5 linked regions of the Homo sapiens genome follow. The protein of the gene in region 3 purifies or fractionates together with the protein of the main gene of each other region. This does not show direct contact. Each region holds a gene or a part of one and is shown on either strand. Other genes may lie near its edges.

The links.
Region 1: the proteins of RNF170 (region 3) and ST7L purify together in Homo sapiens (affinity purification with mass spectrometry; 2 studies listed by BioGRID and IntAct, with this or other methods). This does not show direct contact.
Region 2: the proteins of RNF170 (region 3) and ITPR3 purify together in Homo sapiens (affinity purification with mass spectrometry, with the first as the bait; one large-scale study listed by BioGRID). This does not show direct contact.
Region 4: the proteins of RNF170 (region 3) and ATAD1 purify together in Homo sapiens (affinity purification with mass spectrometry, with the first as the bait; one large-scale study listed by BioGRID). This does not show direct contact.
Region 5: the proteins of RNF170 (region 3) and HSD17B12 purify together in Homo sapiens (affinity purification with mass spectrometry, with the first as the bait; one large-scale study listed by BioGRID). This does not show direct contact.

What each region holds. Positions count from the first base shown.
Region 1 is NC_000001.11:112,608,835-112,614,904, forward strand, and holds part of ST7L (suppressor of tumorigenicity 7 protein-like), read right to left. Parts: intron 2,170-6,070; coding exon 2,007-2,169; intron 1-2,006.
Region 2 is NC_000006.12:33,680,322-33,685,152, reverse strand, and holds part of ITPR3 (inositol 1,4,5-trisphosphate-gated calcium channel ITPR3), read right to left. Parts: intron 4,825-4,831; coding exon 4,699-4,824; intron 4,599-4,698; coding exon 4,473-4,598; intron 2,630-4,472; coding exon 2,509-2,629; intron 1,947-2,508; coding exon 1,756-1,946; intron 1,134-1,755; coding exon 985-1,133; intron 797-984; coding exon 688-796; intron 556-687; coding exon 465-555; intron 380-464; coding exon 210-379; intron 1-209.
Region 3 is NC_000008.11:42,889,184-42,895,253, forward strand, and holds part of RNF170 (E3 ubiquitin-protein ligase RNF170), read right to left. Parts: intron 5,925-6,070; exon of another isoform or gene 4,784-5,924; coding exon of another isoform or gene 4,770-4,783; intron 232-4,769; exon of another isoform or gene 120-231; intron 1-119. UniProt on the Homo sapiens protein: E3 ubiquitin-protein ligase that plays an essential role in stimulus-induced inositol 1,4,5-trisphosphate receptor type 1 (ITPR1) ubiquitination and degradation via the endoplasmic reticulum-associated degradation (ERAD) pathway.
Region 4 is NC_000010.11:87,814,109-87,820,857, reverse strand, and holds the start of ATAD1 (outer mitochondrial transmembrane helix translocase), read left to right. Parts: upstream 1-2,631; 5' UTR 2,632-2,691; exon of another isoform or gene 2,692-3,063; intron 3,064-6,245; 5' UTR 6,246-6,258; coding exon 6,259-6,420; intron 6,421-6,749. UniProt on the Homo sapiens protein: Outer mitochondrial translocase required to remove mislocalized tail-anchored transmembrane proteins on mitochondria.
Region 5 is NC_000011.10:43,686,204-43,692,273, reverse strand, and holds part of HSD17B12 (very-long-chain 3-oxoacyl-CoA reductase), read right to left. Parts: intron 1-6,070. UniProt on the Homo sapiens protein: Catalyzes the second of the four reactions of the long-chain fatty acids elongation cycle. This endoplasmic reticulum-bound enzymatic process, allows the addition of two carbons to the chain of long- and very long-chain fatty acids/VLCFAs per cycle.

The sequences.
Region 1 (6,070 bases), on a different chromosome or scaffold from region 3:
TGGTGCTTCCTCAGGGACTTTGACCAAATCTAAAAAGTGCCACCAGTTGCACTCAGGCAGTATTTTTCTACTAAACTATCATAACTCTAGTGGTAAGCTATTGAACAAATGAGGCATTTGGAATATTATGGAATTAACTCATTTGTATTATTACTATATGGTTATTACCTATCCCAGTGAAAGGAACAATAATCCAAAATATTCATTTTGGCCCAGGAGCGATGGCTCACACCTGTAATTCCAACATTTTGGGAGACTGAGGTGGGAGGATCACTTGAGCCCAGGAGTTCGAGACCAGCCTGGGCAACATACTGAGACCTCATCTCTATTAAAATAATAATAATAATAATTGTATTTGGCTTTGTAAATTTTCCTTTCCTAATTATGTATCATTAAAAATATTTGCTTTCTAGCTGGCCAGGCTCAGTGGCTCACGCCTGTAATCCTAGCACTTTGGGAAGCCGAGGCAGACAGATCACCTGAGGTCGGGAGTTCAAGACCAGCCTGGCCAACATGGTGAAACCCATCTCTACTAAAAATACAAAAATTAGCTGGGTGCAGTGGTACATGCCTGTTATTTCAGCTACTTGGGAGGCTGAGGAAGGAGAATCACTTGAACCCAGGAGGCAGAGGTCGCAGTGAGCTGAGATTGCACCACTGCACTCTAGCCTGGGCTACAGAGACTTCGTCTCAAAAAAAAAAAAAAATGCTGGGTATGGTGGCTCACGCCTGTAATCCCAGAACTTTAGGAGGCCAAGGTGGGCAGATCATGAGGTCAAGAGATTGAGACCATCCTGGCCAATATGGTGAAACCCCATCTCTACTAAAAATACAAAATATTAGCCAGGCATGGTGGTGCATGCCTGTAGTCCCAGCTACTCGGGAGGCTGAGGCAGGAGAATCATTTGAACTTGGAAGGAGAGGTTGCAGTGAGCCGAGATCGCACCACTGCACTCCAGCCTGGCAACAGACAAGATTCTGTCTCTAACTAAATAAATAAATAAATTTGCGATTACTCGACACAAATAGAGGAACAGTCTACAATAAAAGTATGACAATGGAATATCCATCCATGAAGAGCTGAGACTTTGATGCCTTTTTAAGTATACTGAAAAAAATTTTTTTTCCTACTTTTCTCTCTTGGCAGAGATGGCTGTTTCTGTTCTCTCCTTTATTAGTCATAAGATTCCCTGATTTGCTGGGCGTATATATATATATACACTGAGAAAATGATGAAAATTTCTAGCCTTCCTTATAGCTAGTAATGGCCATATGAAACAGACCTGACCAGTAGGAAGTAAGGTGAAATAGTATGTAACATTTCTGAGAATAGTCCTTGGCTTCTGTGGGGTGGAGTAGAGGGAAGTAGTGACCTTACCCCGGATTTCTTTCCTTCCTACTGATTGGAATGTGGATATGATGGCTGAAGCAAGAGCAACAGTCTTACACGACAAAGTAAAAACTACATTTGGAGATGGCAGGCTAACAAAATAGAAGGGGTCTGGGTATCTGATGATTATTGTTTTCCATACTAGCCATGGACTAACTATATTAACATGAAAGACAAATTTCTGTGTCTTGGTCCATTTGGACTGCTATAACAAAATATCACAAACTGCGTAGATTATAAACAGTATAAATTTATTTTTAACAGTTCTGGAGGCTGGGAAGTCTATGACCAAGGTACCAACAAATTTGGTGTCTGGTGAGGGTCTGCTTTCTGGTTCACAGACGGCGCCTTCTCGTGGTGTCCTCCCACGGTAGAAGTGGCAAGCAGCTCTCTGGGGTCTCTCATAAGGGCATTCATCACATCCCTGAGGGCACTGCCCTCATGACCTGATCACCTCCCAAAGACCCTACCTCGTAACATCACATTGGTGATTAGAATTTTGGGGGAAACACAAACATGCACACCACAGCACTCTGCTGTTTTGAGTTTTCTATCTCCCAGAGCCAAACTCAATCTTAAATACACAGCTCTGAAAACACATTAGAAAAGTAGTCACCTGACAAATTCTGTCTGCTGGTTTCATTTTCTCTGTTCCTCGAAGGAGAACCTGGTTCTGAAATGCTGCTCTCTGTTCCTCCCATCAGTGGTTGCAAATGGCTTACAGATACTTGCTCAATAAAAGATGTGCCATGCTTATGGAAGTACCACCATTCAAATATCTATGACAAACAGAAAATATCCTGCACTTAGAATCGATCAGCAGATACATGAGCTCAAATTAAAACATTCTCTCAAGATGTCCTGTTCAATTCAGCATTTTAAATGCACTCTCCTTTCAAAAAGAAAAAAACATACAAACACAAGATTCACCAATAACATGTCACGTAAAAGTGAAATACATTTTTTATAGTTCCGTCATAAAATTTAGACAAGCTTAAGCAAAACTAGGCATATGTAATAAAGCATTAAAAACAGAAAGAAGCATTTTAATCTATAAGTAATTTAACTCTGTTAAGTTACATTGTCATTTTATTCTATCTGCAGCATAAACAGTTTTCAAATAATAAGCATAGTGGATGAACAGACTAGACTAGCATCAGCATGCCCATGTTTTAACTCCCAAATCAGTCATTTATTAGCTGTGTGCTGTGGGCAAGTCACTTAATCTCTTAATATCTCAGAGCCTCAGCTAAATGTGGTTAACAAGAATTATAAGAAAGTGCTTTCTGAAGCAAAAAGTACTACTCTGGTATTTGGCAAAATTATTAATAAAGGTTAAGGTCAAGTTGATTCCCATATTGAACCATTTAAAAATCAGGATATTCATTTCTTTCTATTTCCATGGTTTATCACTGATATAAAAAGAGAAACCAGGCCAGACACGGTGGTTCACGTCTGTAATTCCAGCACTTTGGGAGGCCAAGAAGTCCCAAAAGAGGGATCCTCAAGAAGAATCGCTTGAGCCCAAGAATTCTAGACCAGCCTGGACAAAACAGTGAGACCTCATCTCTACAGAAAAATATAAAAATAAAATATTAGCTGGGTGAGGTGGTGCATGCCTGCAGTTCCAGCTACTCAGGAAGTTGAAGTGGGAGGATCTCTTGAGCCCAAGGAGGTCAAGGCTGCAGTGAGCTGAGATTGCACCACTGCCCTCCAGCCTGGGCAATAGAGTGAGACCCTGTCTCAAAAAAAAAAAAAAAAAAAAAAAAAGTCACCTGACAGACTAGTCTTCTGCCAAATGTAGTGGATACATGTATTACTTTAAAGAATAAACAAAGCATATGCACAACTAAGAGATTTTAATCTTTTTATTTCCTTTTTTTAAAATGTTTTGAGATAGGATCCCACTGTCACCAGGCTGGAGTACAGTGGCATGATCACAGCTCACTGAAACCTTGACCTCCCTGGGCTCAGGTGATCATCCCACCTCAGCCTCCCGTGTAGCTAGGACTACAGGCATGTGCCACCATGCCCAGCTAATTTTTATGTTTTTTGTAGGGACAAGGTTTTGCCATGTTGCCCAGGCTGGTCTCAAATTCCTGGGCTTAAGCGCTCTGCCCTCCTTGGCCTCACAAAGTGCTAGGATTATGGGTGTAAGCTACCATGACCGGCCAGATTATAATATTTTTGAAAACTATTTTACTATGACCACAAACAGAACCCATCACAAAAAAATCAGCATTTTCAAATCTGTAGGAATGTTATTTTTTTGCTTCAGTAAATAACAGAACAAATATGCTACATAGGTGCCAAAAGTATAGTCATGTTGGGGCCCGCTGACTACATGCCACAACGTTTATAGGAAAGTGTGAGAAAATCATGGTGCAGCATTTTTTCTATCATGTCACTAATGTTTTATGCTCAGTCTAAAATGGTATCTCTTTCTGCTCACTCTTAAGTTAGCAAGAATTACCACCAAATGAGGCCATGGTTTGACTTCTACCATATATTTTACTAAGAAGTGAGATAAAACTTCTTTACACAAGCAGAAACTGTTCATGTGACAGAAAAGGTTTATATTGAATAAATCTTGGCTAAGAAAATTGGATAGGGCCAGGCACGGTGGCTCATGCCTATAATCCCAACACTTTGGGAGGCTGAGGTGGGAGGATCACTTGAGGCTGGGAATTTGAGATTAACCTGGACAACATAGTGAGACCCCATCTCTACAAAACATAAAAAAAATGAGCCAGGTGTGAGGGTGTGTGCCTGTAGTCCCAGCTACTTTGGAGGCTGAGGTGGGAGGATTGCTTGAGTTCAGCAGGTCAAGGCTGCTGTGAGCTGTGATTGTACCACTTCACTCCAGCCTGGGTGACAGAGTAAAACACTGTTTCGAAAAAAAAAAAGAGAAGATAAGTACCATCAAGGGCAACAACAACACACTTCCCTTCACCATACAAAGTGCAGGTGGGTTTTCTAATGAATGAGTATGAAGTTAGGGGCTTTTTTCAACTTTTGAGTCAACTTTTTAACACAAATGAACAATGGTAATAATAACTGCAAATACTTATCAAAAGCTTTCTATGAGCCACACATTATGCCAATCCTTGACATGCATTATGTCATTTAATTTTTATAACAACTGATTTTAGAGATGAGGACACACATTCCAAATTTAAATAACAGTTCACATCACTGGTAACTGGCAGAGCTGGGATTCTTATTCAGGTTTGCCTGACTTCGGAGCTTCCAACCATTACACCAGACTGATTCATAAATATATCTCTTTATACATGTATATGTGATTATATGTATATACAAGTTTGTTAAATCCAGGTGGTAAAAGAAATTATAAACACAACAACCTTTGCTAATAAAAACCCATCAACATTGCAAGGGTAATAATACAGTTTAACCTTTAAAATGTTACTTGAATTTCCTAATTTGTGTATATTTAAAATGCGGTTTTATAAAGAGTAACAAAAGGTTTTTTTGGGTTTTTGTTGTTGTTGTTTTGTTGTTGAGACAAGGTCCACTCTGTTGCCCGGGCTGGAGTGCAGTAGCATGATCACAGCTCACCACAGCCACGATTTCCTGGGCTCAAGCAATCCTCCCACCTCAGTCTCTGAAGTAGCTGGGACTACAGGAATGCGCCACCACAACGCGCTAAATTTTTAAAATTTTATACAGAGACCAGATCTTGTTCATTTGTCCAGGCTGCTCTTGAACTCCTGGCCACAAGCAATCCTCCTGCCTCAGCCTCCCACAGTGTTGGCAGTACAGACACGAGACACCACACCTGGCCACAAAAAGTTTTTTACAAGGTTTTAGACATCATATATATAAGTTATCCCCCTCTTATAAATGAGGAAATTATAGCTTAGACAGTTTATGTAGCTTGCCCAAAATTATCAGCTAGTAAGTGGCAGAGTTAAGATTCAAAATTTTATCTTCTGGTTCCCAAACCAGAGCTTTTTCCACTATATCAGCTGCTTAATATTGATAGTTTCTTTAAAACAAACAAACAAAAACCATATTAAATAGAGACAGGGTCTTGTTGTTGCCCAGGCTGGTCTCAAACTTCTGGCATTAAGGGATTCTCCCACTCCATCCTCCCAAAGTGTTGGGATTACAGGTGTAAGCCACCGTGCCTGGCTTAAAGACAGTTTATCGTCTTTACTTAGACTTTTGTATGCTATGGACTAAACATGCTAAAATATGCTTATGTTAAATTATGAGGCTTATATTAACATGTAGTTTTAATCCTGAATTCCTCAATAGCTTCTATTTTTTTTAGCCAAGAGAAAAATCTCGTTCTTGTTTGGCATTTCACTTTAACAAAATGGTCTGTATTTAGTCCCTATTTAAAAAAATAGATCCAATACAAATGCTATTTCTACTACAGCTGGAGAGCACCACCTAGAGATAAAAAAAAGAACAGGCTGGGCATGGTGGTTCACGCCTGGAACCTTAGCACTTTGGGAGGCCGAGGAGAATGGATCGTTTATGCCCAAGCGTCTGAGACTACCCTGAACAACACAGTGAGACTCTGTCTCTACAAAAAATAAATAAAAATTTAAAGGGAAGAGAAAAATTTATTGGCTATGCATGGCATAAAACTTCTTAAGATTTTTATCTGCAGCAGTATTGTTCCAAAGTGTACACTAGTAAACATGACAT
Region 2 (4,831 bases), on a different chromosome or scaffold from region 3:
CCCCGCATACCCCTCTGCCCCAGCCAGGCCTGAGCCCGTCTCCTCACCACCCTGCCCCCATCATGCCCACTCTTCTCACCTCTCAGCCACTGCTCAGGCCTCTCCTCTTTCACACCCTCCTCGGCCTTCAGTGCCCAACTCAAGGCCCACCTCCTCCAAAAAGGGAGGGAGGCAAAGGAGGGCATGTCCAGGCCCCAGGCCCCCCACACCTGGATCTCTGTGTTGCCACCATCCAGCAGGTGGATGGCCAGGCCGATGCTCTCCTGGAAGATCTTCTCGTTCTTGGTGCTGGTGATGAGGTCGCATACCAACTTGGTGGCCCCCTCCTTGTCCAGCCGGCACTGGGTGGCTGCGATTGCCGACCAGTCTGGGTCCAGGCCTGGAGGCGGGACTCGGTTGAGGGAGAGCTGGTGTGACAGGAGAGTGGAAGGGAGGGCCCGGGGGCAGGGGAAGGTGATACTGACCAGTGCCTATGGGGTCGGGAAGGTCCCCCCGCGAGGTGGACTTCCGGTTCTGGAGGTAGTTTTGCAGCAGCATCTTGCGCAGCTGGTTGCCCTGGGGGAGGATGGGAGTGAGGCCCCATTGTGGGTACAGCCCACCACTGACCACTGGCCTGACGGGCTTGACCCTGAGCCCCTGGGTACTCCTGACTGGCCCACCCAGCACTTGCCCCACCAGGGCACTCACCCGGTCCCCGTACTTGGTCTTCTTGAGCAGCATCTGCTGCAGGGTCCGCAGCACCTTGATGCACAGCTTCTCCTCCGACTCCATGAGGTCCTTGGTGTGCTGGATCAGCCTGAGCCGGCCAAGGAGGCAGCTCAGGGCAGCCCCACACTGCCTCCCTCCAGCTACTTCCCCACCCCATCCCAGGCAGGAACACCCCCAGGCCCTCTGACCCAGTGAGCCTGTCTAGTCCCCACCGGGCCCTTCTCTGTCCCCTGCCGCTGCACCCCTGCTGCCCCCATGCCCCAGTGTCTCGCTCACTTGGACAGGAAGCCCCCACTCTCGCAGCGCTGGTAGGCCTCACTGCCCTCCAGGAAGAGCAGCTCAGGCCAGTGCAGGACATCCACCAGCACGGACAGCTCAGCCTGTACCAGGGGCTTCAGCCGCTCCTCCAGGGCTGTGATGATGTCCTGGGGTGGGCAGGGCAGAGTCATTGCCAGGCCCAAGAAATGACCCGGGTGTGACTGCCATTCCTCCGACCCAAACGCCAAACAGCCCCACAGATTGCCCTGCCTCTGTCTGAGGGGCCCACACCCACAGAGACACCCTGAACACAGCGTGATGTCTGTCTGCTCAGAGCCCTGGCTGGGAGCTGCCAAGCCTGGCTTCTCTCCCAGCTCTGTGTGACCTTGGGCAAACCCCTTAGCCTCTCTGAGCCTCAGTCTCCTGCCACGTGGGGAAAATAATCCACCACACCCCCTCTACAGGCCAACGAGACAGCGCACAGAAATGTGCTGCATAGACAGGAGGGCGCTGCAGGAGTGAGGGGTGGTCCCGACCCCCTCATGAGCTCCAACCCCACTAGCAGGCCTCTGGGTTCTCCAGGCTTCCTCTGGAAGGAGGTTCCCCAGTCCCTTGCTGCTGGGTCGGCCCTTAGCAGCCCCAGAGTGTAGAGAAGCCAACCAGCCCCTTCCTGGAAGTGTGGGCAGGACAGGAAGAAACACTCCCCGAGAACTTGCCCCTCCAAAGTAGGGGAGCTGCTGACTCAACCAAGCAGCTCCCGAGGCAGATGCCAGGCAGCCCCACACCCACCTGCAGCTTCTCAATGATGTTCTTGTAGTCCCACTGGTTGGCGGTGGGGGTGACGCGGGGGAAGGCCCGCGTGGTTGCCTTGTAGCTGGAGGCGTTCCGCTGGGCGGCAGCTGCACAGCTGGCTCCACTGCTGAGCATCGAGCTGATGTGGGCATCCAGGTCCATGGGCAGCAAGATGGCCCGGCCCTTGGCTGGGTGGGAAGGGAGGGAGTGCTGGAGTGCTGGTGCGGGGGCAGTTCAGCCAGCCAGAGGCCAGGCTCAGGGCTGCCACACCAGGAGACAGAGTGAACTAGACCAAGGGTCTGGGAGACAGAGACCCCCCCCACCCCGGCCTATGCTTGAGGGACTGAGAGGCTTTCTTCCCCTTGTTGGGTAAAAGGAGTTTCTGCCTCTTTGATTCCCCCCGGCTCTACCCTGACTTCCCCTTCCTCTCTCTCACCTGTCCTCTCTTCTTCCCCAACTGTCCCTAACAATCCACAGGCCTGCTCCTGCCTGAGCCCATCTGCAAATACCCATAAAAAACTAGCTGGAGAATGTCGGCGAGCATCCTTCTCTGGGGAACTGACCCAGAGGAGAAAACAGCTTCTCTCAATTGCCAGGATGAGGCAGACGCCAAGAAGAACTTACTGACAACCACCTGGGAGCAGGAGATGGGCGAGCTTAGGGATAAAGTGTTTATTAGGAGGGCAGGCGTCCCCACTGTGAGCGGCAGGAGGAGTGGTTTGGGGCTGGCCAGTGCCCCGGCACACTCACCCACCATGGCGAGGGTCCGGATGCAGGCCTCCACGGAGCCCTTGTGCTGCTGCTGTAGCCACGGACACTCGAGGAGGCGTGTGGTAGACTGCAGCAGCTGCACCACAATCGTCTGGTGTGTCTGCAAGAAGTCACAGAGCCCGCTGCTGCAGCCCAGGCCCCCACCCTGGGCAACCCCAGGTCCAGGAACCAGGGCCCAATCAGAATGGGCATGGGTGGAGAGACGGAGCCTTCACTAGCCACCATGTGCCTCTGTGCCAGTTGGAAAAAGGTACTTGTATTCCCTTCAGCAGTGCACGACCTGCCCAACTGTACACGGCAGCCCTGTAACTCACCAAGGCCGTGGGCTCATAGCCATGTTGCTGACCCTTTTAAAAAATGTTTAAAAAAATTAATGTCATAAAAAGGTGATGGATTTACATGGTTGAAAAACCAAAAGGTTATTTAAAAGATAACACTTTGAGGCTGGGCGCAGTGGCTCACACGTGTAATGTCAGCACTTTGGGAGGCCAAGGTGGGTGGATGACTTGCGGTCAGGAGTTCGAGACCAGCCTGGCCAACATGGTGAAACCCTGTCTCTACTAAAAATACAAAAATTAGCCGGGCGTGGTGGCGGGTGCCTATAATCCCAGCTACTCAGGAGGCTGAGGCTGGAGAATTGCTTGAACCTGGGAGGCAGGGGTTGCAAGTGAGCCAAGGTTGTGCTACTGCACTCTAGCCTGGGGCACCAAGTGAGACTCCGTCTCAAAAAAAAAAAACATAACACTTTGAGAAGTCTCTCCCCCATCACCCTCATTGCCCTGGAGCTGATCAAGGATGGGGAAAGCTGATATCAATTACCAGAGTTCCATCGTCCCAATGCGATCCCAGGGCCCAAACAATGTGTGTCAAAATACACCACCCTTCCTGAGAAGGCAGGACTCAGCATTTTTCCCCCCAGACTTAGAAGCACGATCCCACCCCACCCCAGCTCCTATGCCCCTAGGTAGCCCCTTTTGTGGGTTTCTTTTGTATCCTTCCAGTGTTTCTTTGATTTCGGTCATGTAGCAGGGCCCTTCCTTAAGGGAACCTGGCTCGCTTTCATTCAGGGGGGCTCTGGGCTGAGCACTGGCTCGAGTCTGGGAATCTGGGGATTGACCAAGGAGCCATGAATCTTTCGAGATTCAAATCAGGCTTCTGTACACTGGCCTGGAGCCCTTCTGCTTAGGCCTTCAGAAGGCTGCCTGCCTATTTCAGTTCTAAGATCACTATGATCAACTAGCCAGCACGAAGGATCCTGCCAGGGAGACTGTCGTGATCCCTGCTTTGGCTGTACCATCCCATGGATGGCACGTCTGCCTTATCTTTGGTGAATAAGTGCTGCCACTCCGGGATCCGCCCACCCACTGGAGTTAGGAGTTCCTGCTGGATGGTACCATTCCCACCGTCATTCTGGCCCACAGAAACTGAGATAGCGAATGCTTGTTGTTTTAACTGCTAGGTTTGGGGATAATTTGTTAACACGGTATAGATAACTAATATACTTAGGCCGGGCGCGGTGGTTCACACCTGTAATCCCAGCACTTTGGGAAGCCGAGGTGGGCGGATCATGAGGTCAGGAGATTGAGACCATCCTGGCTAACACGGTGAAACCCTGTCTCTACTAAAAATGCAAAAATTAGCTGGGCGTGGTGGCGGGCACCTGTAGTCCCAGCTACTCGGGAGGCTGAGGCAGGAGAATGGCGTGAACCCAGGAGGCAGAGCTTGCAGTAAGCAGAGATCGCGCCACTGCACTCCAGCCTGGGCGACAGAGTGAAACTCCATCTCAAAAAAAAAAAAAAAAAAGATAACCAATACACTTATGTATCCTTTTGTTACTTCTTTCTGTACTATAAGCAAATATAAATATGTATTCTTATTTCCCCCCTTCCCTTCACAAAAGCTAGGCAAGTCGGCCCTGGGGTGGTGGGAGAGGAGAAGCTCACCTGCAGGGAAGTGCTGTTCTCAGAGAATGGGGAGCTGAAGAAGGCGTTGATGGTGTCCAGCACAACGCTCAGCACGTACTTCTCCAAGGTGGGGTCAGCCACGCGCTTCTCACGCTTGCTGCAGACCTGAGGCAGGAGAGAGGGATGGCTGGGGGCTCCTCACATGGGGCCCCTCCACTCCCACACCTCCTGGGGGGCTTCACCCACACCCCTCACAGGGACAGACCCGGGCCATGTCCAGGGTGAAGTTCTCAAAGAGCGTCCAGATGTGGTTGCTGGTGTAGATCTCCTTCATCTCCACCTCCGTGTCCACGTAGCAGTGGTTCACGAAGTTCACATAGGCCATTTTCACCTGGGCA
Region 3 (6,070 bases):
GAATTCTTTGAACTGCTTGGAATATAGAATCACTCTGATGCTGCATTTCCTTATGAAGAGAAAAGGGAGGATAAGAAACTTTCCTTCCTACACTCTAAACTAGAGAAAAATGGTAGTACCTAATTCTATAGGTATGAGGGGAGATAGCCCAGCCACACTGGAGTCCAAATATCACAGGTAATTCACATTTTTTTCAGACAAAACAGGAAGTGTCAAAGTCTTATAAGACACCTAAAGAGAAATTAAGGAATATATATTCAATTAAATATATATGAATAATTAAAATAAAGTTCTGCATTTATGTAACTTATTGAGCTGAAAAAAGTTTTATTCAATATCATCACTAATCAGGTATTTTGAGTATAGACGTCTTAATACCTTTGAAAATCATCTGAACTGGCTGCAAGAAAATTACCACTCATGGAAGAAACCTACGCAAACAGATGAAAGGCAGCTTTCATCAGCTTTACACGGACTAATCGCCTGATATATGGAACTTTTAATGACTGGTTTCAAGTAACTATTACGAAGGTGCACACCAGGAAACTCACAGAAACAGCTCTAATTGCAGTATTTTCATTCAAAAGAACAGTTAAATGAGCTGCCAACTGAACTGAAGAGCCTCAAATAAGCTAGGGGTGGGCCACGGAGTCAATTTAGGTTTTTATTTCATCAGGTTTCCTCTCTTAAAATTAGAGGTGCTGTAGCTGTTTCAAAAGTCCTAAGGGCACTGAGAACTACTTGCATCTGCTCAAAGATAACCCAAATGTTATCCCCTGTGTCAAGATTTCCAACCTCTAATTACCTCACAGAGCTGTGAAGGTTAAAACAAATGAACAGAGGTGAAAGTGCTTTGTAAGTTAAGTCTATCAACAAATGCATTGTAATTATTCCTACTCACATTTTCCTCTATGCTATACATTTAGGCCGTTTATTATTTTGTACTTAAAAAAATGCATTGCATTTGTTTCTATGTCCTTCAAGGTGCAATCAATGGTAATGCGAATAAATTATACTGTACAACATATATATAATATATATTATATATAAATATTTGACTACTATGTGATTATATTCTTTTTTTTTTTTGAGACTTTTTTTTTTCTTTTTTTGAGACGGAGTCTTGCTCTGTCGCCCAGGCTGGAGTGCAGCAACGCGATCTCGGCTCACTGCAAGCTCTGCCTCCCGGGTTCTCGTCATTCTCTTGCCTCAGTCTCCCGAGTAGCTGGGACTACAGGCGCCCCCCACCACACCCGGCTAATTTTTTCTGTTTTTAGTAGAGATGGGGTTTCACTGTGTTAGCCAGGATGGTCTTGATCTCCTGACCTCGTGATACACCCACTTCAGCCTCCCAAAGTGCTGGGATTACAGGTGTGAGCCACTGCACCCGGCCTGTGATTATACTCTTAAGATATTGCTTCATGTACATTTCCAAGAGCTCAGAGATCCAGGATATTTAAGTATTGCATGTCCATATTATTTTATTTGCATCATTTGACAGCAGATATTCTCAGCGGTGTTGAGAGGAAAAGGGAAGGGCACTGCATTTTCTTGTCCCATGGAAATCCCAACAAAAGCCAGGCTGTCAAATGGAGATCTACTAATGCCATTTGACCTGCTTGTTGGGGGCTTCGACAGCACAACTTCTGCCATAGTTTCTCATAAAATTGGAGTAAAAAAGCAACTGCAGGTGCTAGTGGCTCAAAAATGAGGTATTGTACCATCACTTCAGTTTGGAAAGAGGCTGGTCTGATTTATAACTCCAGAAGATAAACAGGAAACAAAATTTCCTACTTGGGGAGATGACATAATACCTCAGTCCTGAAAATGAATTCCAAAATCAAGGACTTCTGTTCTCCAACTTTTGTTGTTCACAGTCAGTGATTATCCAGAACTAAACAGTGCTGCTGATTCTGTCCAACCATACAGGCTCTAAACTGAAGCCCAAGCAGTTGTTGCTTGGACATGAGGAGCCCTGAATTTTAGTTCCAATTCTGTTACAACAACTGTGTAAAAGTAAATAAAATTCAAACGTTTTTAGAACCTCCAAAGCACCTTAAGCCTTGAAAGAGATATGACTATGATCTGGGTCACGTAACATGTTTACAATTCTGTTTCTTAGATTTTTAGCTTAACTCTTCCTCATTGTTCTTGTTCTATAAACAACTAAAAAAAGACTAAGTCTTTTTTTTAAAAGAGACCAGATCTCCTCCTTCTAATTGCTGATTTTTATTACAGATTAACTGCCTCCTTTATTGTCCTGTACCTAACTCAGACCAGATGGTGCCCCAAACAGGGGTCTCATGACAGTTACATTCTTTCTTCCCTAAAAAACGCACCTTGACTAATCAGATCATTATAACTGTACATTAAGCCTTACATTAAGATATTAAAATTCTGTTAAATGTCCCTAAATTTTGTCTATATAAACAATCCCAAATGTCTATACTGACGAGCACTGACTTCCATGCTTTTAAATCTGTCCTTTCCCAGGTGGCCTGTCCTCAACCTTTACACTTAAACTCTCTTTAAACTCGATTTTGACCTTTTAAATTATTTTAGGTTAACAACTGTGACTTTATTTCTTCACTTCCTTCTACTGCTAAATTTCTCTGATTCAGAGTTTCGGAATAGAGAAAAAGCCACATCAAAGCTAACATTAGAGTGGTTATCAGTGAGAAGCTGGACTGGCAAAACCAGACCATCACCCTCCCTAGGACACAGTTTCACAGTTTCAATTCTTTCAAGTATGAATTACTTTAACAAGAAAAATAAAGCCAATACTTGCTTCCTCTCTCGATATGCAAACTGAGCTTCAATGCCCGGTCAATGCCCATTCTCATCTACCACCCAGTCGCTCAGTTTCCTGACGGTGCCTACTCCGGAGGCACCTACACTGACCTAAGTGGCATGACTGGCATGTCAACTGCTAAACACTCTCACTACACCACAAATTTCCTTCTTGAAAAACAGATATTGCTCAAATTAATGTTTATAAATTTTTAAAATTTATTTTTTGAGACAGGGTCTTGTTCTGTCACCCAGGCTGGAGTGCAGTGGTGCACCCTTGGCTCACTGCAGCCTCGACCTCCCAGGCTCAATCAGTCTTCCTGCTGTGACTACAGGTGTGCACCACTAAGCTCAGTTAAATGTTTTATTTTTTGTAGAGATGGGTTTCACCATCTTGCCCAAGCTGGTCTCCAACTCCTGGGGTCAAGGAATTTACCCACCTAGGCCTCCCAAAGTGCTAGGATTATAGGCGTGAGGTAGCACGCCCAGCCAAAAATTAATGTTTATTGGTGCCAAATATTTACAGAATCCACAAGTGACTACAGTTCAGTTTTAGAATATGTAGATACTGTGCTCAATTGCTTCACCCTCAAAATTTTATTATTATTAATCACAGAATGTTAAGCACTTAGTTCCAAGCATATAAAGTAATATCTTACTGGATTTATTTTTTCATGTTATTTGGAGGCTCTGTTGCAGCGTTTTTTTTTTTTTTTTTAAACCCTAGATTCAGGCCAGTGCTGTGATTCACGCCTGTAATCACAGCATTTTGGGATGCCAAGGTGGGTGGATCACTTGAAGCCAGGAGTTTGAGACCAGCCTGGCCAACATGGTGAAACGCCATCTTTACTAAAAATACAAAAATTAGCCAGACGTGGTGGCACACGCCTGTGATCCCAGCTACTCGGGAGGCTGAGGCATGAGAATTGCTTGAACCTGGGGGGCAGAGGTTGCAGTGAGCCAAGATCGCACCACTGCACTCCAGCCTCGGTGACAGAACAAGACCTTGTCTCAAAAAACTGCCCAGATTTGATCATTACACATTGTACATATTTGTATAAAAATACCACAGGTACCCCATAAATATGTACAACTATTATACATCTATAAAAATTAAAAATACATTTTTAAAGAATGAATTCCTTTCAGTCAGGAATCATATCTTATTACTGTTAGTAGTGCGCAGGGTCTTACATGTTGTAGTGGCCACTAAAGGTTGTTTACATTAAACCCAAAAACAAGGTTATTAAATGTATAGAACATGGGATGTAATCTATTTCATGGTATCCTGTAAAATATGAAAAGAAGAGTTACTAATACTCGGTTTTGAACTGTTTAAGATTCACAAAAACTGAACCCCATCCATCTTGGAAACTGTGCAGTGTAACTGATAGAAGTTTGCAGAGAAACTGGCTTTGCTATTGCTCAGCTGGCTACATCTTATTGAGCAGTATCTTCAGACAGCAAACAAGCACAAGTTCCAGAGTCAGACAGCCCTGGACTTACATAAAGTTTCAGTCTCAGCTTCCTCATACGTAAAAGGCATTAGGTTGAACCATATCAAACTGCCACTCTTTTTTGGGGCGGGTGTGGCAGGGGAAGTGCTTTGCCTTGTGAAGTTTATAATGAGATAATGAAGGTAAGGCATTTAGCATACTGCTTGGCACATCATATAGGCTCTCAGTAAATGGAAGCTACAGTGTTTGGTTAATATTATTAACAACCGCCAAGGAATCATGATAAAACTAGCCATGTTTTGATATGATAAAAACTAGCCATGCCTGCCCCAGAGCTGCTCCACATAGCATCTCAAACTCTCTTTAATCACAGCTCTAAGTATGTGTTCCCTGGGAAGACAGGATGCAATCTGGAGCACTGTCACACAGGACATGCCCTCTTTAATCTGATAAGCAGCTGTGGGTGAGAACTAGCCTCCAACTAACCGGAGTAACCAGACAGCTAAGACAAGTTCAACTCACCTCTCCTCAGGCATTTCCAAAGCTTTCAGGGAAGGAAAAAAAATAAAACACACAGAGAAAATAGAAAAATAGGAAATTCCGGGACTTCCTGGAACAAAGGAGAGAATCTCAGTGTCTTTTTACCCCAAGGCTTACGTAGAAACTCAGCAGCCACATGGCTTCTGCAATTACTCACATCCAAAAAGTTTTTACTAATTTCTTTCATCAAAGGTAACTGGAATTACAAAATGAAACCTCCAGAACAACGTAACATCATGCACAAAAGCACTGTGGATATGCAGCCAAGCTTGAAAAAGGAGACTTTAGGTCCATTGTGTCAAAGCCTTGAAAACCGGGGCCACTGGAGGAAGGGTGCTCAGGACGGCACAACCACAGTCGCTCCAGTAGGGCCAGCATCTTATCTGCCCATCTAAAGACAAGCTGCATGTGAGTCAGGAGTAAGTCAATGTGACATATACTCACTGACTTCATTCACTTGCCTACAAGATTATACGTCACTTAAAAGTGCTAGAGATTCGACAGAAATAACCTGATAAGGAATGTAGGAACTCTAGTTTGACAAATATCCAGAGGCACCAACACAGGAACCAAACACAGGCGAGACACACATGTGTAATTTTTTTTTTCTTTTGAGACAGATTCTCGTTCTGTCGTCAGGATGGAGTGCAGTGGCGCGATCTCGGCTCACTGCAACCTCAGCCTCCCGCGTTCAAGCGATTCTCCTGCCTCAGCCTCCCGAGTAGCTGGGACTACAGGAGCCCGCCACCACGCCCGGCTAATTTTTGTATTTTTAGTAGAGACGGGGTTTCACCATGTTGGCCAGGATCTCTTGACATCGTGATCCGCTCGCCTCGGCCTCCCAAAGTGCTGGGATTACAGGCGCGAGACACCGCGCCTGGCCACGTATGTGTAATTTCTAAAGGTTTCTCTGCCCTTGGTGTAGGGAAGAATGTTTGAAAAAAAGACCATTGAGAATACTTCAGGTAAGTTTTTTTTTTTTTACACTTACAAAATGCTAAATGATCAGGGGTCAACTATCAAGTGGTACTCTGTAAGGCAACCTTAAAAACTCACTGCTGACCCAGGCTCGGTGGCTCACACTTTTGATCCCAGCACTTTTGGGAGGCTAAGGCGGGCGGATCACTTGAGCCCAGGAATTTGAGACCAGCCTGGGCAACATAGCGAGACCCCCTCTCTACAAAAAATAAGAAAATTAGCTGAGCATCGTGGCCTGCACCTGTGGTTCCAGCTACTTGGGAGGCTGAGGTAGGAGGATCACTTGAGCCCAGGAGGCAGAGGTT
Region 4 (6,749 bases), on a different chromosome or scaffold from region 3:
TCACTCTGCTGTATTCTGGAAGAATCTCATTGATTTGATGATTGCTGAAAATGAATGTACTTGATGTCTTAGGCCCAGACATGGAAGGTTTCTTACGGATTTGCTAAATGAAAATATTAGGTCCAAAACATATAGGTGTAGGCATTTGGTTTCCAGTGGCTGAACCACTGGAAAGGGAGTGAGGTGTAGCACTTTTCGAGCTTGTAGACTCTTTATGGTCAGCCTCGTGACTTTATTCAACAGTTTCCCTTCCTGTGCAATCATCCCTCAAATATTAGGCAGATGAATTGAGACTAGATGTAACCATACTGGGAACTCCATTTCATTGTAGGATTCATTTAGGATGTCTCTAGTAGAGTGACTCATGATTTGCCTGAGACTTTGTCAGCCAGTTTTATATCCCAGCAAACCTTTTAGTCTCATGCAAACTGAAACTGGGTAGGCTGGTCACCCTGGTCCTTAGAAGAGGGCAGGTGAGGCTCTTAGTTGAACCAATTTCACTCAGTAAATGAATGAAAATCCATTACTATCTTGAATTTCTCAGCTCATTTTCCTTACCAGTGGATATAATTACCCTATTGGGGCACAAAACCTGTTTCTTGCCTTTAGTGACCCTCCCCCTTTTAGCCCTGCCAAACCATGTGTCCATGAGCCTCCCAAGCAATGATTCAGCTTGGGATCATCCAAGGACCCAGTGGAGAGTCTCTTGAAAGTCTGCTGAGCACTGATAGCCTCTGTTTTTTGTTGTTGTTGTTGTTGTTTGTTTTTAATGAACATTGTCCTCGTCTCATAATCTTTCCGTTCTTCTCAAAGGTCTATCTCTCTAAATAGTCTAGTAATCCCAAACCTAGCTTCACATCCATTTTTTTTTTAAATTAGGAATGTAGGCATGCACGTATATAAAGCCTTAAATACTAAACAGGCACGGGTGTATTCAATTCCATTCTGATTCCTGTCCATGAACTTAATCATAGTTTTCAACATTCATGCATCCCTTTCATCCCATCCTTTAAAGCCTTGTGATTTTGGCATTTCATGGTCTTACTTTCAACTAGATTTTAAAGTTTAGCTGGTATTAAATTACCATCTCAAAGAGAAAACGTAAAGTACAAGGTATGAATTAGACAGACCTATGTTCCAATGAAATTGTTGCCTTTATTTCCCAAGTATATGAACTTAGAAAAGTTTCTCTAAGGTTTAAGCTTTAAAATTTGCTCATTTGTAAAAACGGAGAAAATGATAGCTATTTTAGAGGATTTTGGGGGAGATATTTAGGTTATGCATGTAAAGCACATAGAAGCTTATTGCCCCACCCCAGCAGACATTAACTAGGTATTATCTTCACCACATTATTACAAGTTTGTAACTAGTAACATTCGTTAACAATCAGGCTGCAAAATTGTTATTATTATTGAGACAGGGGCTTGCTCTGTCGCCCAGGCTGGAGTGGAGTGGCTTGATCACTGCAGCCGTGATCTCCCACGCTCAAGCGATTCTCCCACCTCAGCCTCCCAAGTAGCTGGGACTACAGACATGCGCCACCAAATCCAGCTAATTTTTAGGTGGTTTTTTTTTTTTTTTTTTTTTTTTTTTTGTAGAGACGATTTCTCATTATGTTGTCCAGGCTGGTCTCGAATTCCTGACCTCAAGTGATCCTCTCGCTTCGGCCTCCCAAAGTGTTGGGATTACAGGCGTAAGCCACCGCGCTGGCCAAGCTGCAGAATTCTTTAGCCATCAAAGATGATGCCTCAAGTAGAAAGGCACAAGCTGCCTTCCTGAGGAACACAGGGAGAACTCTCATTACATCATAGTCTCACCGACTCTGTCTGAAGGAAGTGATGCTTCTCGTATCTCAGGAGTGTCTAATGTCATCTGGCCCACCGGCAGTTTGTGTATTCAGGAGGCTCTGGCTTTCAGGTTTGCTCCCTTGGGACCTCTTGTGTCACGTCGCTCGTTCTGGAAAGGAAAAGGGGTGAAAGAAAAAGGGAAATCACCAAAATGCAAAATCTGTTACCAGATGCCCTATTCCGTCCTAACTACCGAGTCTGGTGGCGTGGGCTGCTAAATCTTTTCGCGGAAAGATTGTCAGGCGCCACCCCGAGGTGTTTGTCAGCACAGAGATGGGGGAGAAGGGTGAGCTCACCCGAGAATTGAAAGGCAGGTGGTGAGGGATGAGGGGTGAGGAGTGGAGGGTGGCCATAAGCTTCTGCGTTTTGGCTAAAGTACAGACACAAAGCCGCGGCGTGAGGGTTTGCACAGAGTGGTGGGAAGGAGAGAATGTATTTGCTGGGTACGCAGAGCATTTCTGCACTCTCAAGAAGGCTGCCCGATTTGTCAGGGTTGCGCCCCGAGCCCGCGAGAAGGGCAGGGACTTTTTGTGATAAGCGCCTTCCCAAAGGTAGTGTCTGTTAAACGCAGAGCCTTAGCGAGTGCTGCTCGCAGACACGCCGGCTTCGCAGAAAGTCTCAGTCTAGCAGGTAGCTTAAGCAGACATCAGGTGCGCGAATTTGCTCTCCCTCACTGTTTCTAAGCCTGGGAGCACGCCCCCTCCGCGCCGGCGACCGCGGGTCGCGCATGCTCCGTGGGAGGGAGTGCGCCGCGCCTCCCGCCGGAAGCGTTCTCTCCCAGGTTGCGTTTCCTTCCTGTGTGAGGCCGGCTGAGGGCACTTGCTCTTGCTGTTTCTGCCCCTGGGTGAGTAGCTGGTTCCCGTGGGGCCTCATGGGATGGTTGTCGTATCCTTCTGAGGTCCTTTAAGGACCGTCTCGGACCTGGGAACCCCCGGAGGAAAGGTCACCCCGGTCTTCTCCCACGCCCTACCTCAGTGCCGCCCCCAAGCGCCCCGCAGCCCTTAGTATCTAGAGGATTAACCTCCAAGGGCGTCCCGGGCCTCGCCTTGGCGTCCGGCCCGGCCTGGGCCCTTAGGGTCTGCTTAGCTCTTCCCCAAGACTCGTGCCATTCCCGAGGGAATCTTTGTCGGCATCCTGGTCACTGTGGGGGTTTGAGGTCGTCCCGGAAGACTTCAGAACCAGGCGAACCTAGACGAAGGCGGCTGGAATGAACCAGGTCTGATTGTCGCACAGGCGCGGCCACCACCTTGTGCAAAATCGAAGGTGGTTCTTCAGGGCCGGGCACGCTTTCACAAAAGATGGTGATGTTAATAATAACCTGCCCTCTTTGTGAAGATTGGCAGGCCTTCATTGTCATAGGCTGTATTCGTAGGGCCTTTATGCCTGCAAAACTGGGACTTTTGAGTTTGAGAAACGATTTGTGAAATACTGCAATGAATTAGGAGAGAAATACTACAGTGAATGCTATGCTATGAATGCTATACATGTCAATAAATTGCTCATAGATGAGGTAGTACGATTTCACGGTTTTCCACTCGGAAATGGAGAACTTAAAATGAAACGACCTGATACCATATTTGCCTAACAAATAACTCTAGGTTATAGTGTTTTAGGATGTTTCTTAGTTGCATACAGCACTATCATCGTATATGTACATATTTGTGTATTCATTTTGTTGAACCTAATGTTTATACAGGATTGAAATACGCTCCCTGCTGTTGTATGCGCATGCAGCTTTTATTGTATGTTCGCTGGTGATGGTATTGCTGCTGTAACAGCCTTACATTTTAGGTATATCAATACCAAATGAATGATACATGAGTGTACAATAAAGTATATATAGTTACAGTCTACAAAACAAGTTTCAGTTTCATTGAAGGATTTTGAAGTAATTTAAAAAGGTAGACTACTATTTTACAAGTGGCCTTAGTAGACCTAAGTCTTTATTACATTAAAAATTTCAGAATTGGGAAGGATATAAACGGGTTTTGTGTGTTGACCTTTTATGGGATTAAAAGTTGTTACTATCTTGATGACTGGGATGTGTTCATAACAGCCCTAATTTGTTCATGTAGTTCAATGAATATCCAGTAGATGACTTGGTTGGTAGTTTTATCACTACCAACTCTAAAACGAAAACGTTTTACTGGAATGCCACCGCTTTTCACAGATTAGGTTAATAAAACCCTTATCTTGTCTAAATTATTTTCCTCTGTGAGTATACCCCACGTAGTGATATAACACGTTTCAACTGCATTTTCAACTTTGTGGAATAAAGACTAGAAAAGTCAGTTTTTTACTTCCTATGAGAAGTGAAATATTGTGTAACCCGTTTTTTTTGGAATCCATGCTGATGGAAGATAGCACACTTTGGTTTGTTCCATGAAGAGAGATTTCAGTTAGGTGCCTTCTCCTTTTTGGCTTCTTTTGCTTTCTTTATAATTAATATAATAGCCGGACAGTGTGTTCTTTGAATGAAGTGGTGATATCTTAACAATTATTGTATATCCAATATATAGTGGGCGTCATATATAGATGTTCAGTAAATGCAAATTGAATGAATTAAATCATTTACCATCCCTAGGCCAAAGTTTCTTCCTCCAAAATGAAGGCTTTCAATTATTTAGTTGTTAAGTTTAAATTAAATCTAATTATTGTGAAGTGAATGGCTCCTAGTGGAGAAATGTGGAACCTTTTGGAAATCCTTCAGAAGTGACTGTTGCAATGATTGAATGGGAGATTTCCTTCAGTTACAATTTATCTGTTGAACATAATTTTTGAATAGCCTCTGTTTTGTGTGTGGCAATTATAAACGTCTGTTTTGTGTGTGACAGTTATAAAGGTAGATAAGATATACATCTTGTTTATAAGGATTTAAACTCTAGTCGAGTAGATATCTCAAAAGCAAGACTTTTTTAAGATAGTGTAATAGGGCGAAATGAATAATACGAAGATTCATGTGATTTGAAAGGCTTTATGGAGCAAATAAAGTTGATTTTTGAAGTTAGGATAGAATTTGACTAATCCTAGGTGAATGAGGGTAAATGGCCCATGCAGGATACTAGACAGATACGCTGAAGGGAAAATATATGTGGGATTTTCAGATGGTAGTGACTCCAGCTATTTATAGAGTCCCTTTGAAAAGAGGTGAAAGAGAAAATGCTTACAATTGACTCTGGAGCTAGATTCTAGATTAGAATAGTTTTGAATGCTTGGGAAACGTATAAAGGAAATACTTTGGGGTCTTTTGATTAGAGAGAAGGAGTATATATCCTTGAGTGGAGGTGAGGGGTATAAAAGGAAATAAAAAATTTTTGGAGCTATTCTAGAGGGAGGAAGGTGAAGAGGCTCTTTAATTTAGTAGTAGTGAGAGGAGAATTTTAGAGCTGGAAGGACCATGGATATTAATCTTTGCAGTACCTAACTTTTATCTGCTGAGCCATACAAATTCTGTTTTTTTTCATGTTTATGTAAGTACAAATATATATTCTCTTTTTCTTATATATCCCATAGCATTCAGCACACTCCTGTGCTGAGAGTATAATGGCAGTATTTGAAGCTAAGATCCTATCTCCCAAAATGTGATAGTCATATCATCCCTAACAAGCTTATTCTTCCGGGTAGTTATTGCCATTGACAGAGGAGTGTATGTCTTCTGTAAGCCTAGCTTTGATTGATGTAGCTGTTCAGGGATATATGCAAAAATAGGCACATTTATCTCATTTTTTTTCTCTTTAGCTTGGGTGAGTGCTGTATTCTTGTAGTAGTTGTCTCAGTTCAAGATTTTTCCAAGTTCTATTGCTTCCTACTTAGCCCGGTTGTTGGGAACAATAGTGTGGCTCAAAAAAGTTAATACCACTTATTACTGAGGAAATGGCATGTTTAAATTTAAGCAGGCCTTGAAAACCTTTAAAAGTATGTATGAGGAAAAAGTGAGTCAGTTCACAATTTGAATTTCACTCAAAAATTACCTGGTATATGATACAGTTAATAGAAGAAATTCTTACCGTCACATTAGTATTGTTGGGCTGCCTTTCTTCAGTTGGATTAGTGTTATAGTTGATACTTTCCTAGACTCTGAAATAGTTCTTTAAAGCTGTTTTGAGTAAATACCTTAAGATATTTACTGTATTTTTCAAATAAAATGATTAATTCTACTACCAAATAAATCTTAATTTCTAGTCTACTTCTAGTTTGCAAGAGGAGCTTTAAATGTATTTGTTTACTTAACATTTAAAAATCCATTTCTCCTTAAAATGAAACACTTTTTTTAAGGTAGGTAATATTTTAATTTGACTAGAAGTTAGTTTTTCTTTCTTAGTTTAAGCTACTTTGTTAGTCTTACAATTTTAATAAGTATAGTTATTACCTAGTGACATTTCTGTTTGTTTTTTTAAGGTTAACATTCAAGATGGTACATGCTGAAGCCTTTTCTCGTCCTTTGAGTCGGAATGAAGTTGTTGGTTTAATTTTCCGTTTGACAATATTTGGTGCAGTGACATACTTTACTATCAAATGGATGGTAGATGCAATTGATCCAACCAGAAAGCAAAAAGTAGAAGCTCAGAAACAGGTATGATTGAAATGTTTGAAGATCATTTTTCTTGTGGCTAACAAGTATTTTCCCCTCAAACTAAAAATTTGGTAGAGTTCACAAATTAATGAGAAATTCTATAAGACCCACATGAAAATGTATTGGTACTCATAGTTTTATTACTCTTACAAAGTACTAGTTTATTATGACATTATTTCAAGTCATTTTTTACTATATAAACAACTTATCAGAAGAAAAATGAATAAACAATAAAATATTGTGAACATCTTCATTAGAATATTTTTGTCAGCTTTGGAGGTAGGATCTAGATAAAAGTTTTTAGGCTAACCCAAAATATTTATCTTCAG
Region 5 (6,070 bases), on a different chromosome or scaffold from region 3:
AAACAGTTCACAAATTATTTTGCAAAGTAGAACAAAAAATAGAAAACTAAAGCAAAACATCTGACCCCCCAATTGAAATACACCAGAACCTCAAGGAAAAAAGTATTCACTCATGAAATATTATAGTGCAAATACACTTTTGAGCAAATGAAGTGATACATGCACACATATACATACACACGACTAATAAGGTAAACTGTGAAAAAGCCCACCAGAATGAATACAAGAAATACTATTAGAGTTCCAAAAGTGCACAGTCACTATCATCTAGAAAGCTCTCAATGCAAAAAGTCACAATTGACACTCTGGAACATGAGTAGAATTTCACAAACAGGAAGAGTGAGGAAGAGTGTGGAATATGAGAAAGAGCACCTCAGGCAGAGTGAGGCCAACATGCAACAACCACCAAAACCTACTAAATGCCTCTGCACAAGCAAGGCCCTGGAGGCTGCAAGAAGCAGGAAAGCACAGGCATGTCTGGGACACAGGACGTCATCCAGGATGCATCCAAGGAAGGGTGCAAAGGAGGTGACATCAGAAACAGACACAAGGCCAAGATCAAAAGGGCCAAGGAGCCTGATGTTTGCATAGACATTATGAAACTTCTGACCTGTATGTGTAAGGTATAAGGAAGGGGTAACTTGATTGGAGGCTTCACTGGTAGATTAAACTTGCGCCAGAGTGAGTGTAAGATTTGGTAGGGAGGCAATATATTAGGAGAACATAGAGGAAGGTATGGATGCGAGAGAGACTGTAGTGGTAGATTCAGCAAGATTTGGCAATTTCCTGTCTAGATGTGCAAAGGAAAGCATGATTCTAAGACTTAGAGATGAGGGAGCAAACTGGCTACTTGATGCATCTAGCCACTGACATAATTTATTTGGTCCACAGAGTAAACCTGAGAAATTTGCATCAACTCTAAACAATTAAGAAACTTTCTATATGAAAATCTAGATTTGGGCTGCTGGTGAAAATCTGAGAGGACTGTGCCAGTGTTGCTGAAGGCTGCTACTAGAGACCATGCCTGGTTACCTGGACAGTGTCTTGACATGCATTACACCTGGTCCACTTCACTCATTTTACTTGACCTGCCTGAGGCATCAGAATTTGCCATCTCTGATTTGGAGCTTCATGACTAGCAAGACGATGACATAATTAGCAAAAATAAGGAAGTCCAGAACACGCTGGGGAGAGTAGAAAAGCTAAATTTTAGACATACTAAAATTGACGACTTTGATAATCATCTAGAAGGGAATATGCAGTGTCTTTAGAAATTTGAGGGAAAGTCGGGAAAAGATGCATGTGGATAAAATCAGAATCATCCCATCAGATAATATCTGCTATCATTTCTATAGTATTTAACATTGAAATGTCAGGTAGTGTTCTCAGTAGTCTAAGTATTCCACACACATTAAATCAGTTAGCCCCATTTAATCAGTATTTCCAATCTATAATTATCCCAATTTTACAGATGAGGAAACTGAGGCACACAGAAGTTAAGGTGATAACACTGTAACTAGCTGAGCTGGGATTCAAAAGTAGGTAATCTAGTTCCAGAGTCTGTATTAGGAGAACTTCGTCCTGAGGTTACTCTATATTTTTAGATTAAATAATTTCATTCTTAGAGGTTGGGAAACCGCTAATATTTGTTAGATTTGTAGCTGATAAGAGAATGTAAAAAGAGAAGATAATTCACAAAAATCATTATCCCTTAATATTAAAAAGACTGGAAGCCAGACACAGCTGGGACACATGCCTATAGTCCCAGCAACTCAGGAGGCTAAGGCAGGAGGATTGCTTGAGCCCAGGAGTTTGAGGCCAGCCTGGGCAATATAGTGAGACCCTGTCTCAGAAAAAAAAAAAAAAAAATATATATATATATATATATATATATATATATATATATATATATGTATGAATACCTTACTTAACAGATATTTCCATTAATTCAACAAAGGTACATTGGCACTTACTGTGTACAGACATTGTTCTAGGTGCTTGAGATTAAAAGACAAAGATCCTTGCCTTACAGTGCTCACATTCTAACAGAAACATCATAAATGAGCAAAGTATACAGTAGGGGAGATGGTGACAAGTGCTATGACAAAAAGGAAAAGTGGGGCAGGGTAATGGATAGGAGTGGGAGTGAGGGAGAAACGACTGTGAGTTTATAGGTAGGAGGGGCGGTTCCATTGAAAAGGTGATATTTCTGCAAAGACTTGAAGGAGAGTAAGAAGGGTCAGTCACATGGATATCTGGGGGAAGAGCATTCCGTGAAGAGGAAAAAGCAAAGGCCCCAAAGCAACAATGCCAAGGTTGTTCAAGGAACAGCAAGAGGTGTATGTGGGTGGAACGGAGTAAGAGTAGTGGAGATGAGGTCAGAGGTCAATGGAAGCAGGAAGCAGGTGGTTTAAAGCCTTGTTCAGGCCGGGTGCGGTGGCTCACACCTGTAATCCCAGCACTTTGGGAGGCTGAGGCAGGTGGATCACCTGAGGTCAGGAGTTCAAAACCAGCCTGGTCAGTATGGTGAAACCCCGTCTCTAATAAAAATACAAAAAAATTATCAGGGTGTGGTGGCACTCGCCTGTAGTCCCAGCTACTTGGGGGGCTGAGGCAGGAGAATCACTTGAACCTGAGAGGCAGAGGCTGCAGTGAGCTGAGATCACACCACAGCCCTCCAGCCTGGGTGACAGAGCAGGACCCAGCTTCAAAAAATAAAAATAAACATAAATATAAAATAGAATAAAATAAAATAAAGCCTTATTCAAAGCCACGAGACAAATACTGAGTTTTAATCTGAGTGGGTGAGAAACCACTAGAGAGATCTAGGCAGAGCATCACATAATCTGACCAAAGCTTGTCAAGGATCACTGTGGCTGCTGTGTGAGAATCAACTGCAGGAGAGCCAAGGTGGAAGCAGAGAGATAAGAAACTTGTTATTAGAGAGACAAGAGTCTGTGGTGGCTTAGAACTCACTAGATTCTGGATATTTTGAAGTTCAGAGTCAACGGGATTTCCTAAAAGGCTGCATGTGGTGAAGACTTAAAGATAACTCTAAGGTTTTTACAAATGTAATTGAAAAATTATAAATAACCAAATTTTTTGAAGTCCTTCCTATCTTAGATTTACTCACTAAGGGGATCTATATATAAAGGAACTGCTTAGTAAATCTTTTACCCAAGCAAGGAATTCTTCTGCAGTAGCACTAGTCATCTCCTAATTGGTCTGTTCATAATTTTAGATTTTCAAGTGTATACCTGCTGAGTGAACTACAATTATTTCTTAGTTTCAACAATCCCTTTTCATCCAATAAGAGTAATCTATACAAACAAATGATGCTCTTAAATATATGTTACTTAATATTCATAAAAATACAGTAAGGACTATACTAGAACCTCATTTACATCTCATTTAATTGTCATAATAATCCCGAAAAGTATCATCCCCCTAAAAAATGAAAGAAGTTATGCTCAGAGGTTAACTATTTTTGCCTAAGGTCAACCAGCTTAGTAACAGCACAGCTTGCCCACTGACTCCAAAGCCAATCTGTTTGTTAGCTATACTGTTTCCCAATGTAATACTCTTGAGAGGCACCAATTGTTCAAGTTCTTAAACTGTCTAGCCCTTCCTCTCTTCCACAATGACTAGGTTATTTAAATGGAAATAACTTCACTAAATGGTGGCAAAGATAACTTTCCAGAAACTGGATAGTTTTCCTGGAATTGCCAGTTAGAGATAGGGCAAACGCATTGTTTTGTAGACAAAAATCGACAAATAAAACAAAGCGTTCTTTCTGATACAGATTTGTGGCAAGCTTCTCAACTACCACACCATGGTATTATGGAGTTACCATGACAACGCAATAACCTAGTTTCAGTGTTTCAATAACCCCATCACTCAGTCCCTGTAAGAGAAGAACTTCCCATACCACAGTGATCAGACTTTTCCCCCAGACAGAAATGGTCTCTGAGAGATGATAACTAAGAAGTGCACAAAAGTAGCATCCCTTACAAAAAGCATAAATTCCCATTTTATTGTATTCATTAAATTTTTTTTTTTTTTGAGACAGAGTGTTGCTCAGTTGCCCACTCTGGAGCGCAGTGGTGCAATCTCGGCTCACTGCAACCTCCGCCTCCTGGGTTCAAGCTATTCTGGTGCCTCAGCCTCCCGAGTAGCGGGGACTACAGGTGCATACCACCACACTTGGCTAATTTTTGTATTTTTAGTAGAGATGTGGTTTTGCCATGTTGGCCAGGCTGGTCTGAAACTCCTGGCCTCAAGTGATCCGCCCACTTCAGCCTCCCAAAGTGTTGGAATTACAGGCATGAGCCACTGCGCCCAGCCAATTGACATTTTAAAAAAGGCAATTTTAACTGAGTTTATCTGAATACCTAGACTGATCTATCTCTGTGTAACAATGTTTTCCCAAAGAGGGCCGGCAATAACTCTAGGGAAGTCATAGAAACAAGAAATTCGGCTTACAGTTGCAAACACAACAGTGTTACCCTTCTGCTTAAAATCACCTCAACTGCTTTCCACTGCTCCAGGATAAAGGCTGAAGGCCCTGCTCATTGCCCTTCTTGCCTCTCCAGTTCCATGGCACTCATATCTGAGCTTTCCTGGCTCGTCACTCAGCCCTCGTTTCATGAGGGCCCTGCCCTTTCCTGCCCTAGGAATTTAGCAACTGCTTTTCCTTCTGCCAAGAACATTCTTCCCTCTGCCCTTCCTGTCACTCCAGCTTGCTCACTTACACTCAACCGCCAGATCTCAGCTGAGGCACTGCTTCCCCAGCACAGCTCTAGAACTTTCCCTCACAAATTCTCATAGGACCAAATACTTCCTGTTCTCACCACTTACCATAGCACAGTTTATTCATTTTGTTACTGTTTGTCATCCCATTGGACTATTATAAGGTCTATAGTTAGCACTCAACAGTATTTGTGGTGGATAAATGGGCAAATGAATAGTGTTATGTCATACTCTCCACCAAGCCCAGTGAGGGCTTTGCTCACCCTGCCTCCCTAACCTTAATCTCAATCCATCCCAGATGACATGCATATGAATTGCTACATGTTGTTTTGCTAAGAGTGACAAGAAGGGAAATGAAATAAAGGATGCACTGTTTTTAAAATATACATTTAACTTATCCTTATCTACAAATAGCTTTTAATGGCACTGAAACTGATCTATTCAAATCCGTTTACCCATGCATTCTAAACTTATAAATTTTGTTATGTAAATCTGACAAATTTTTCTGAAACTGAAAGAAATAAATTATCCTCAATTCAACCAACCAAAACCAACAACAACAAAAAATTAGTTTTAAAGCTCAACACTCTCAGTTGCAAGTAGCAATGGTAATCTCAGTTATCTGACAATGTAGTCACCCAGATATCAACTCTTTCTTCTAAACCCTACCCTGGCAATTAGCTCAGGTAATCAGAGCACAGTGCTACTAAGGCTAATAATACTATAATAATAACAAGTTATCAAGCACTTATGTACTATCTGTTTTACAGAGAATAAGTATTCTCATTTACCCTTCACAATAAGCCTATGAAATCTGTAGGGAAGCTAGAATTCAAGTCTAGGTTTGGGTCTCCAAGTTCAAGTTTGACCTCTAAATAGGAAAGTTAGTGTTGCACAGAAAGAAAGAACAGGAAAAAAAAAAAAAAAAACAGGGTGGGAGCAATGGGGGCTAGTCGGGAGGGGAGTGAGGGAAAAAGATATTCAGGGAATGTAAACTCAGGATCTGTAATCCCAGGAAACCTCCCTCTTTGGTTTTTCCTCCAAATCAAATAAAGGTATGCTTTTAGGTCCAATCTTCAGTTGCATCTGTTTCCTCTTATGTAGACTCCAGCACTAGTACTTGAAAGTTGCCCTGCCAACTTTAATCTGCAGAACTTTTTCCATTTAGGCACACGTACTCCCTTTCGGGAGCCAAAGGGCAGAATAAACAAATATTCAAAAACATTTATGACTAAGTTTGTTTCTCTGCCTTCCCTCACCTTCCCTGCCTCTGCGAAAAACATAACCCATGTAATGACTACTGCGATCAACATTGGCTCGC